Regions from separate parts of the Homo sapiens genome. Here region 2 is linked to region 1. The links come from fine-mapping of genetic effects on gene expression. A gene starts in region 1. The other region holds a variant in brackets. All regions are shown on one strand. Distances are between the middles of the regions.

What was found. PIP is the estimated chance that this variant, and not a neighbour inherited with it, causes the effect.
Region 2: its variant is the best candidate, but not a certain one, in a credible set for the expression of RSPO4 in sigmoid colon (GTEx, PIP 0.66).

Annotation. Positions count from the first base shown.
Region 1 is chr20:999,455-1,004,827 of GRCh38, forward strand. It overlaps RSPO4 (R-spondin 4), which reads right to left and starts at 2,857. Exons shown (of 5, transcript NM_001029871.4): 1 at 2,632-2,857. The coding sequence starts at 2,710.
Region 2 is chr20:1,036,350-1,041,722 of GRCh38, forward strand. No RefSeq gene overlaps it. Among named protein-coding and RNA genes, the nearest start is that of RSPO4, 37 kb to the left of the region's middle. The variant T/G (reference allele first, on the strand shown) is at 2,140.

The DNA of each region.
Region 1 (5,373 bases):
AGCTCTGGTCCCCACTGCAGTGCCAGTGGGAAACTGAGGCTATGGGCGGGGGACAGAGAAAATCCACTCACCCAAGGTCACATGATACAACTGGGTCAGGGGTGTGACTGAAATCCAAGGCTATCTCCATTGTACCCCAACAAATAAATGGAGCCCTAAGCCTCTTCTGAAGATGCTAGGCAGGTGTGTGTCCCAGAGGCAAGAGATCAGGTACTGGAGGAGGGATGCTGAGAGCCCCTCACCAAATTGCGGCCATATCCCTACCTCCTCACTGAGCTCCTGGGGAGGTGGTGGTGAGCTGTAGATGGGGCGGGGGGCAAAAGGGGCAGGATAGGAATTTTTCATTTTTCTTTAATTTTTTTGTCTTTTTTGAGCTGAGAAGCATCTTAAAGTCTTCTAAACCAGCTCCTTTTTGTTGTTGTTGTTGTTGTTGAGACAGAGTCTCACTCTGACACCCAGGCTGGAGTGCAGTGGCATGATCTCGGCTCACTGCAACCTCTGCCTCCTGGGTTCAAGCGACTCTCCTGCCTCAGCCTCCCAAGTAGCTGGAATTACAGGCGCCCGCCACCACACCCAGCTAATCATTGTATTTTTAGTAAAGACAGGGTTTCATCATGTTAGCCAGGCTGGTCTCAAACTCCTGATCTCAAATGATCCGCCTGCCTTGGCCTCCCAAAGTGCTGGTATTACAGGCGTGAGCCACCACACCTGGCCTAAACCAGCTCCTCTTTAGATGAGGAAACTGAGGCTCTGAGAAGGGAAGACCAGCACACCTCAGAAGATATCTTCTCAGCATTATGTCAGGCAGATTGGGATTCGAGCCTGCTTTGCTACTCACCTGCTGTGCGACCTTGGACAAGTCAGTTTCCTTCTCTGAACCTCAGTTCCCTCATCCAGAAAACAAGCATCTCTCCCCTCCCTCCACTAAGCCACTGTGAGTAGCCAAAGACACAGTGGACAGGAAATGAGAATGATTAATACTTACGAGCACCCATTAGGAGCCTGTGTCCTTAGCTACTCATCTTGCCCACAATCCTCCTTATGAGCAGGATACTTAAGTAAAAGATGGGTTGATGAAGGGAAAGGGGGTTTGTTTGATTTTTTGGTATTGTTTAGAATGGAGAAAGATCTCAGAGATCTTCTAAAGGACCCTCAGATGGGTAAAGTGAGGATTGGACAGGCAAAGTGACTTATCCAAAGTCACTCAGTTGGTAACTGGGGAAGCTGGGATTTGAACTCAGTTGACCTGGCTCCAGAGCCCATGCCCCTAACTACTAAACAAAGGCCATTCACAAAGGAGTGTCCCCATAGAGTCCCAAACTCACCCCAGCTCAGCTGAAAACCACACGCCTCTCTAGTCCCTTGTCCCACTGTCACAGCAAGAACTGGAGCCTCTTGGGCCACAGTCTCCCCAACCCCATCCAATCCCACCTCCCAATTCTCCCACAGCCTCTGTCTGCTTCCTGCTCCGTTCCAGGAGTGACTGTGTCGCTGTAGGGCTTTCACACAAATGGAAGGCCCCAGAGGGCAACCCATCCTCTCTCATTTTCCTTCCCCTTTATCCTTGCTCAGACCCGATGCCAGGGCTGGAAAGAGAGAAGACACCAGCTGGACAATTCAGCAGTTATTTAAACCAGTCTGAGCCTTGGAATCCCAGGCTTTATTAAAACTGGACGACCCCTATGTCATGAGCATATAGTTGGGATTTGATGAGCTAGGACATGAAAAACCCGTGGCATAGTGGCTGGCATTCGGCTGCTGATCTTAAGAGTGGCACCTGGAGGCCAAAGGGCTGCCCAGCTCAGGCAGGCGATTTGCTCACTTGCTCACCCGCTTACCCTTCTCTGAGGCACAGGCTCTACCAACTCCTGCTCTGCAGGGACAGCCTCCAACCCACCTTCTGAGGATGTTCTGACTCTCACAGCGAGGCTGTGGCATAGGACTCCCAGGTGAGAGCGCATGCGGCCCCTGGTACATTTATAATCTGAACCTTGGCTCATCTTCCTAGTGGCCTGAGAGGTGAAGATGGAAAAGCTGAGGCTCTCTGAGGGGCTGGACTTCTTCTAGGTCATCCCCTATTAGAATAAGTGAACCTGAACTCAGGTCTCAGGTCTGGCTGAACTCAACATAGGGGGGCCATGGAGGATCACTGCCCTCTGGGAGGTGACACCAGGAGTCAGGGTGAGTGATGAGGCTGGGACTGGGGCCTCTGGACGCCCAGCCCAAGGCTCTCTATGTCACTTCCTGGCCGAGCATGGATGCTTGGAATGGCTTCTACGCCACTGAGTCTGTCTCCTAGTCCCTGTGCCCCGCAGGCTGGCTCTTGAGTCTTCTGTCTCTGCACGAAGCCATCCTCCTTTCTGCTGACCATGCGGCTACTACAGAGAGCCCTGCTACCCTCTCCCTTCTGGGTGAGTCTCCTTGGCCCACCCTACTCAATGGCTCGCTCACTGGGTGCCCTGGAGCCTCAATCTCCCCATCTTAAGTGAGGTTGAGACTCGTCTGGAGGAGCGAAGGACCCAGGGCGCCAGGCACCAGGCAGATGCCCCCAGAGCCGCCGCCCCCGGTCCTCCGGCCCCCGGTCTGCCCCGCAGCGCCTGCCCGGCCGCCCTGCCCAGCCACCCCTTGTACCTTGCTTCTTCCTTCGGTTCAGGGCGAGCATGTCCACGGCGTGGGCGACGAGCAGGAGCAGGCAGAGTGGCGCCCGCATCTGGGCAGCCGGATCCGGGCTGGCGCTCCCCAGGCGGCCCGACGGCCCAAGGGCCCCACGTCCCGGCGGCGGCACGGCGGGCGCGGGGGCTGCTGTGGGCGCGCCGGGCGCATCCGCCAGGCGCGGGTCGGTCCGGCCGCCAGGTCTAGTGAGGGCGTTGGCGGAGCCGGGGCACTGCCCTGGCGGGGAGGAGCCGGCGCGGCGGGGGCGGCGCGTTAACCAGCTCGGGGCCCGGGAGCGCGCGCGGGGAGGGGGCGGGGGTCACCCGGGTCGGGGCCCTCGAGTTCGATCTGTCCCGCAGCCGGCGGTCTTGCGTCTTTCCCGCCCCCAGCACTGCCCCCGAGCACGTGCACGTGCCCACCGCCAGCCACAGGTACGCACGCGCGCGCAGGTACAGATGCGCGGACACCCGGAGACCCGTACGGTCCCCCGCGCCCTCTCAGCGCCTGTGATTTTCTTTCCCTCCCCCCAGTCCCCTTTCTCTGTCTGTTCCTCCTTCTGGCCCTTAAGGACAACTCCTTGTCTCCTGCTTTCTCGGTCTTTCCGCGGCCCGCGCTCCCCTGCTCTGCCCCCGACCCTGCCTGGCTGTTCCTGCATCCTTTACTCTTGCCGGCCGTCTCTCTCTCAGGCTCACTGTCTGTGTCCTCCTGGCTGGGCCTCTGGTTCTCCCTTTTCTCTGTCTCTCCCTTCAACCCCATCTCTCCCCTTCTCCCCTCCTGCAGGGTGGGGTGTTTGCGGGGCTCCTGCTGCCTGGCTTTCTCTTTTTCTCTCTACTCTGTCTCATTCTTTTAACAGAGGCCTGAGCCCCTTCTGGCCACTAACCCTGAATGTTTCCTGTGCAGTCTGCGGGGATCATCTACTCCGACTCAAAGTGACCAGCACCTCATAAATCCACTTGTGACAGGGCTGGGGACCTGGACTGTGTTTCCTCCAACCTTATCACCAGGACTGGGAGCAGCTGGTTCAAGTTTAACCCTTTCAGAGCAAAATTCCTCCTTCAACCCGACAGCATGCTCACCTCTCCTGTCACTATAACCACCAAAAACAACAACAATCATGCTAGCTATCATTTGTGAGGCATATATGGTGGGCATTGCTAAGAACTTGACATATACTAGAGTCTTCAAAACAACCCAATGGTTTGGGTTTGTATTCTGAGTAATTCCACTTTTCTGGGGAGCAAAGGGAAGCTCAGAGAGGCCAAGTGACTTGCCCAAGGCCACACAGCAGGTCAGTGGCCATTCTGGTCCAGTGCCTGCCCCTCTTAGCCACTTCTCAGGCACAGACTCATCAGAATGGAAGAGGCCTTGGAGGGAGGCCTAGAGAAACTTACAGTTGACACTCTCTTGCTGAACAATTGTCCTTCCTTTTTCTTTTCTTTTTTTTTTCTTTTTTTTGAGATGGGTTTTCACTCTGTCACCCAGGCTGGAGTGCAATGGCGCCATCTCGGCTCACTGCAACCTCTGCCTCCTGGGTTCAAGTGATTCTCCTGCCTCAGCCTCCCAAGTAGCTGGGATTACAGGCACCTGCCACCACACCCAGCTAATTTTTGTAGTTTTTAGTAGAGACGGGGTTTCACCATGTTGGCCAGGCTGGTCTTGAACTCCTGACCTCAAGTGATCCACCTGCCTCAGCCTCCCAAAGTGCTGGGACTACAGACGTGAGCCACCCCACCCAGCCTGTCCTCTTTTTTCCTACATGTGGAGCTTGCTCCAAAAGAAATGGAAGGTAAATGCTGGTATCTCCTCCAGCTCCTTCTCCCAGTGCAATGAGGGACACTTGAAGGCATGGCAGGGGCAGGGGAAACACACAGAGAGTGTGGCAGCTGAAGGTACAGCCCTGGCCTGGCCATTCTTTCTGTGGGGCCCCAAGAACGCTGGCAGACAACACGGAGAACTTGGTGGAATGTCAGAGACAGCCCACCCAAAGTGCTCCATTTCACAGATGAGGCCACTGAGCCTTCAGGACTGGGGGGTGCCTAGATTAGGCCACCCAGTGAGTCAAGGACTGAGCTGACATGGGCATCCAGGTGTCCCATTGTGGTCATCACCATGGCCTGCAAGGACCTCTTGTTCTGATATCTCTGATCTCAGTCTTTCCCACTGCCCCACCCCTCTCTCTTTAGCCTTAGAGATTTCAGCCCTTGAATATTTCACAAACACCACAGGCCTCTCACACCTCTGAGCTTTTCATGTTGTGGGGCCTCTCCATGGAATACCATCCTATATCCTACCTCCTTCTTCACTGCCTCTGCTCCAGGAAGCCTTCCCTGATTCTCAGGCCAGGTCCAGTGCCTCCTCTGGGCATCCACAATCTCTTTATCACAGCTCTGATCACATCAGGTGGTAACAATGGATGTGTCTGTTCTCCTTCCAAACTGCCATCTCTTTCAAGCCAGAGCCAGACACACAGCGGTGCTCAGAATGTTTGCATAATGAGTGCATAAATAAATGAATGGTGAATGAATGAATTCTCCAGATGCACAAGTCTCCCAGCCTGTACATGGAATGCAGGTACTTGGAGAAATGAGGTGACCCCAGAAGATCAAGCCTTAGGAAAGCGGAGGTCATTCCCTTCCCCACTACCCCCAGTACTGGAGTCTCCAAAGTCCAAAGGGGACAGCTTCCATGTGAGCAGGGCCAGAGAGGTCCAATGTGCATTGT
Region 2 (5,373 bases), 37 kb after region 1:
TGGGCTCCATGACCAGGGGGAGCTTTGCTTTTTCACCTCCATACACTCGGTGCCTGTGAGCACCTGGTACATCAGTAGATGCTCAATAAAGAGTTGTTGAGTGAACAAATGAATGAGCCAGTGATTGCGTGGATCCATGTTTTCTATGAGAAGGCAGAGCTCTGAGGACAGACAGAGGCCCAGTGTGCATGAGAAAGTCCTGCTGGCCCAGGCAGTGGCCTAAGAGCTGCCTACCATGGCGGTCACTGTTCTTGGGGAACCACAGATGTTTCCCCTCTAATCCCTCCATGGGGACCAGGGGGGCATGAGAATGGGAGAGAACACAAAGTCCCTTTATTCAGGGGAGTGGATTCCATCTCAAGACAAATTGTTACCTCCAAGGCCACCAGCCGCCCAGCCGGCCCATCACCATGGCCTCCCTCTTAAGGATGTGGGCACAGGCCCGGCCAGAGCTGAAATTGCCCTGGAAACTAGTCTCCCCTTTAATTAACAGGGAGGGCGACCAGGCCTGCTAACGGGGTGGGGTATGGAGTCGGGGTGGGGTCAAGTTCATAAAGTCCCCAAAGAATCAAGGCCTCCTTGTTTATTTTCCCGAAAATGTTCCCCATTACCCAGAACAGCATAGGGGCCAAGCAGGCCGCAGGCAGGGAAAAAGCTTTAACCTCCCCGCTGCTCAGCTCAGCACATCACTATTTGACTTGCATTTTAAAAATAATTACAAACTTAATGAAAAAATAACCTAACCCCCAAACAGGCCAGGGACTCATGGCCAGCATTGGCAGGAGCAAGCCCCTGGCAGCTGTGAGGATGAGATGCAAAGGGTATAGAGGAACCACTGGAAGACAGGGGACACCCTTTAGATGGACACTCCCTCTCTCTAGCGCCAGCTTTGGCTCCCTATTGCCCTTTGTGTCATGCCCAAATGTCTCAGCCCATGTCTTAGAGCCAGTTTTACTCAGGCCCTATGTGGAAGACACTGGAACCCAAAGAGGAAAGGAAGTTGCTCAGGTTGTGCATTGTGTGGGACCTGATGCAGGTAGTGAGGCTGGTTGGGATGGGTTCTCGGGGAAAGAGTGGAGGAAAGTGAGAATGTGTCTCTGTTACCATCTGAGCCCTGGCTGGGTATGGCCAACATGCCAGGTAAGCAGCCTTGGGAAGCAGGCACGATGATTATCCATCTTTAATATCCCAGGACTTGAGTCCAGGTCTGTCGGGCTTTTAGCCACCACACTAAGTGCTGTAAAAGGAGCTGGAGGTAGAAATGAAGTAACAACAATAATAATAATAAGCAGCTTTCATGGATTGTAGACTATGTGCCGTGCACTGTGCCAAGCTCTTTACCATCTCTTTTAATCTTTGCAATAACTTTATCTGGTAGGTAGTGTTATTGACCCATTTTACAAACGACGCCCAGAGCATTGGTTCAAGGTTGTGCAGCTGGGAAATGGCCTGTACTCTTCTACCCTGAGAATAATGCTCTACAGTGAGTCAGGGAGTCTTGTGAGGTCTCAAGAACAGGGACCTTGTCTGTCTTATTCACTTGTGTGTCCTCAGAGCCCAGAAGAGAGACTGGCATATAATAGATATTTAATATCTGTGTTGTGAATAAGAATGAACAAATGCACCTGGACCTAGAAGTAACTTCCGATGAACCATCCCAGTTCTCCCTTCCCCATTCCGGATTATCTTTACTTACCTGGAAGTGAACAAGATATTAAGGGGCTCCAAAAGAACTGAGAAATAGAACTTGGTTTGAAAGACAGTAGGGAGCCACAGCAGGTCCTTCAGGAATGGAGTTCCAAGCTAGGGGAGTGATGGTCTTCCTGTGTCTTTATGGATTCCAGGAGCTAGTCAAGGTCAATGAGCCTTTAGCCAGAAGGTCAAGTTATCCCCAGTGGTAAGTGTTGGGGGAAGAGGAGGGCACTTCTCAGGAGTTGAGGGTCCCAAACTTGTCATGCTCATTGGTTTTGTGGCTGAGAGTGGCAGGTTCAGGCTGGCCAGCCAGCCTCTTCAGCTTGCCCATGGTAAATCCCATGATCCTGGGTCAAGGACGCCCAAACATGGTATGTCCATAGCCAGCTGACAGAATTCGTATGTCATTGAATCTTTCAACAATGGATTCTTTGAAACTTACAACTC[T/G]GGGGCCTTTGAGGTCCATCTCAGATTCTGAGGCTGTAGAAACTGTTCATTTTAGAATAATGATAGGTACAAAACATTTACTGAGTACTTACTACTCCAGACATTGTTTACAAATATCAACGCCTTTAATCCTCACAACCACCCCAGAAGGTAGTAACAATGTGACCCCCCACTTCACAGATGTGAAGACGGAGGCACTGAAAGGTGTAACTTGCCCAGGGTCACTGGCCGCCTGGCTCTAAAGCACACAGCACTGCCTCACAGACACTTAAAGTCGTTGAGACTTACACTCTTCAAATTTTAGAATCGTAGAAAGTCACAAGGTCAGGATCTTCAAGCCACAGAGTCTTAAAATCATAGCACTTTAGAACCTGCCATCATTGACTCATCAAATTCTGCCGTCATAAAATCTGGGCATGTTATAATCCTGGAATTCCAGATTCTTGGGGACTTTTAAGTCAGAGAAGTTTAGATCCTGGGATATTAGGCTTGGATTACAGACCCTAGCCCAGTCCTCTCATATAGCACAGGGAAACTGAGGCCCACAGAAGTGACAGAAGTCCAAGAGAGGCAGAGCCTGGTGGATTCAGTGTCATGTTTGGAGGGAGAAATCGGAGTGAACAAAGAAAGCCCCTGGGCAGGCAGGAATCTGTTTGTGATTAGCAGTGGGTTTTAGTGTTGCCGAGGAATGTACCCAACGTTACCGTTACCCCCGCAGGTTGCTGCCTCCTTTCTTCCCCCTCAGATGCCCTCCTCAGAGCCCATCCTGGCCAGACTCAATATCCTGTTTCTACCACCAGCAAATTGAATTTTCAGAAGTTGGCCTCCTAACGAAGCCAGCTTAATACGTTGGAGGTTTTCTTTGCCTGCATTGCTATTTCTTGGTAGGATGCCTGCTCTTCAGGAGCCCAGAGAGGTTTTGCACACTCAAATCACAACGCCAGGAGGGATGAGGGACAGGAACTATGGGACAGGTGGCTGGGGGCTTAGATAGACCCAGAGGTGGGAATAGAAATGGCGTGTCTCAAGGGGGAGGTGACAGGTCCACAGGGACCTCCGTACTGCTCAGGCCACACCTGGGAATTTGGGGGCCTTCAGTCTTTCAGAAACATTAACCAAATGGGGTTTGTTTAGAGGAGGGATGGGGAGAGATGGGTGGGAATCCCATGCTCTGGGAGACCTTGAGCGTGGACTAGATGGAAAGAAGCATGAATTCTAAAGTTCAGCCTCTCAGCTACTGCCCCCTTGAAGACAGACATGGGTGGAGCCCTGGGGTATAGACCTAAGATTGAATGGTGGAAACTCCATGAAGATTTTGGTTTTATCAAAATCAGTGGTTCTCAGGCTGGGCATGGTGGCTCACACCTGTAATCCTGAGGCGGGCAGGTCACTTGAGATCAGGAGTTCAAGACCAGCCTGGCCAACATGGTGAAACCCCATCTCTACTAAAAATACAAAAATTAGCTGGGTGTGGCATCAGACACCTGTAGTCCCAGCTGCTCAGGAGGCTGAGGTAGGAGAATTGCATGAACATGGGAAGCAGAGGTTCCAGTGAGCCGAGATTGCACCACTGCACTCCAGCCTGGGCAATAGAGCAAGAGCCTGTCTAAAAAAAAAAAAAAAAAAAAAGCAATGGTTCTCAAAGTACAGTACAGTCCAGAATCTGTGGGGTTCCTGAGACCATTCCAGGGCATCCACATGGTCAAAACTATATTCACAACAACACTAAGACATTATTTGTTCTTCTAACCCTCAGTGGGGTTGTCCAAAGTTGATATGACATGTGATGCCACCATCACTCTGATAGCAATGAAAAAAATTAATGCAAAAACATTCATGATGAACAAAATACTAAAACTGTAAATAAAGAGAAGACTAATACTACTGATTTTTCCTTTCATCTCAGGCTTCAGTGTGAATTTTTCAAAATATTGCATTAAAATGTCCTAATTACTGATATTTTTGGCACACAAATTTTAAACCTGAGGCAAGTGCCTCGTTTAACTCACTCTAGTCCTGGCTGTGGATATAATCCACATCAACAGAAGCTTGTTGGGGTCCTCAATAATTTTTAAGGATATAAAGTGTGCTGAGATGAAAACATTTGAGGGTCACTGATAAAAGGGATAATGTTCCATCAGCTCAAACTATCCAACAATGGAGGGGATTATATTCCAAGGTACTGAGTTCCCATCACAAGGTGTGTACAAATGGGGGGATTAAAGGATTGGGTGTGGGGAAGAGGCCTAATGTGCAGCATCTCTTGCCCAGGTGCCTCCTGTGGTCCCACCTACCTGGCATCCAATAGATCTTCTCATTTTCCCACTTGAAAGCTTGCAATGGTACCCCACTGTGCTCTGAGCAAAAACCCACCTCTTCTCCATGGCCTACCAGGCTCTATGTGTCCTGGCCCTGTCTCCCACTCTTTTGCCCCTAGCTTGCTCTGCTATCCCCAACCTAGCCTCTTTCTATTTCTTCAGCATGCCAAACTCTTTCTTACCTAGGGATTTTGCACACGCTGTTCCCTCTGCCTGGAACATCTTCCTCTTCACTCTTCTCATGGCTGTTCCTTGTATCTTCTGAGTTTCAACTTGACTGTTGCCTCCAGGAAGGCTTCCCTGATCACCCTATAGTAAGTAGGATTTCTCTGACATCATCTCTCAACCTCTTTTTTGCTTCCTTCATGGAAGTCATCACTGCTTTTTTATATTTACTTGTTGGCATGGATGGTTCTCATCTATTCTCTCCATGAGACCATGAGCTCCTCCAGGGCAGGAAGCCTGACTGTTCAGACATGGGGCCTCAGCACCTGACCCAGCACCTGGCATGGAGGAGGCCCTTGAGAAGTGTTTGTTAAGCAAATAAACAAATCCTTTATGAATTAGTGAATGAATGAGTAAATGAATGAAAGATTAAACAGAAAAGGCCTCTGACTGCTGATGCTCAGGCACTCACCAGGAAACCCAAAGTAACACAGGTTGTTACTTTGATGAAACATCAGTAACCATGGCTGGATAGTGTGTGATGAAGTATTAAGCAGTAAGTGTTTGCCCACTACCCATCAGCGCTGATCAAGTTGGAGGAGAGGGAGACTGGCCTGGCTGCAGAAATCTTGGATGAGTTGGGGCTTGAACACAAGCCTTCAGGGCTTTGCCAAGGCAGGTTCCCCTGCCTAGTTTCTCTGAAGATTCACATTGTATTCACTGTGAGGGCTCGGCTCAAATAACCCTGCCT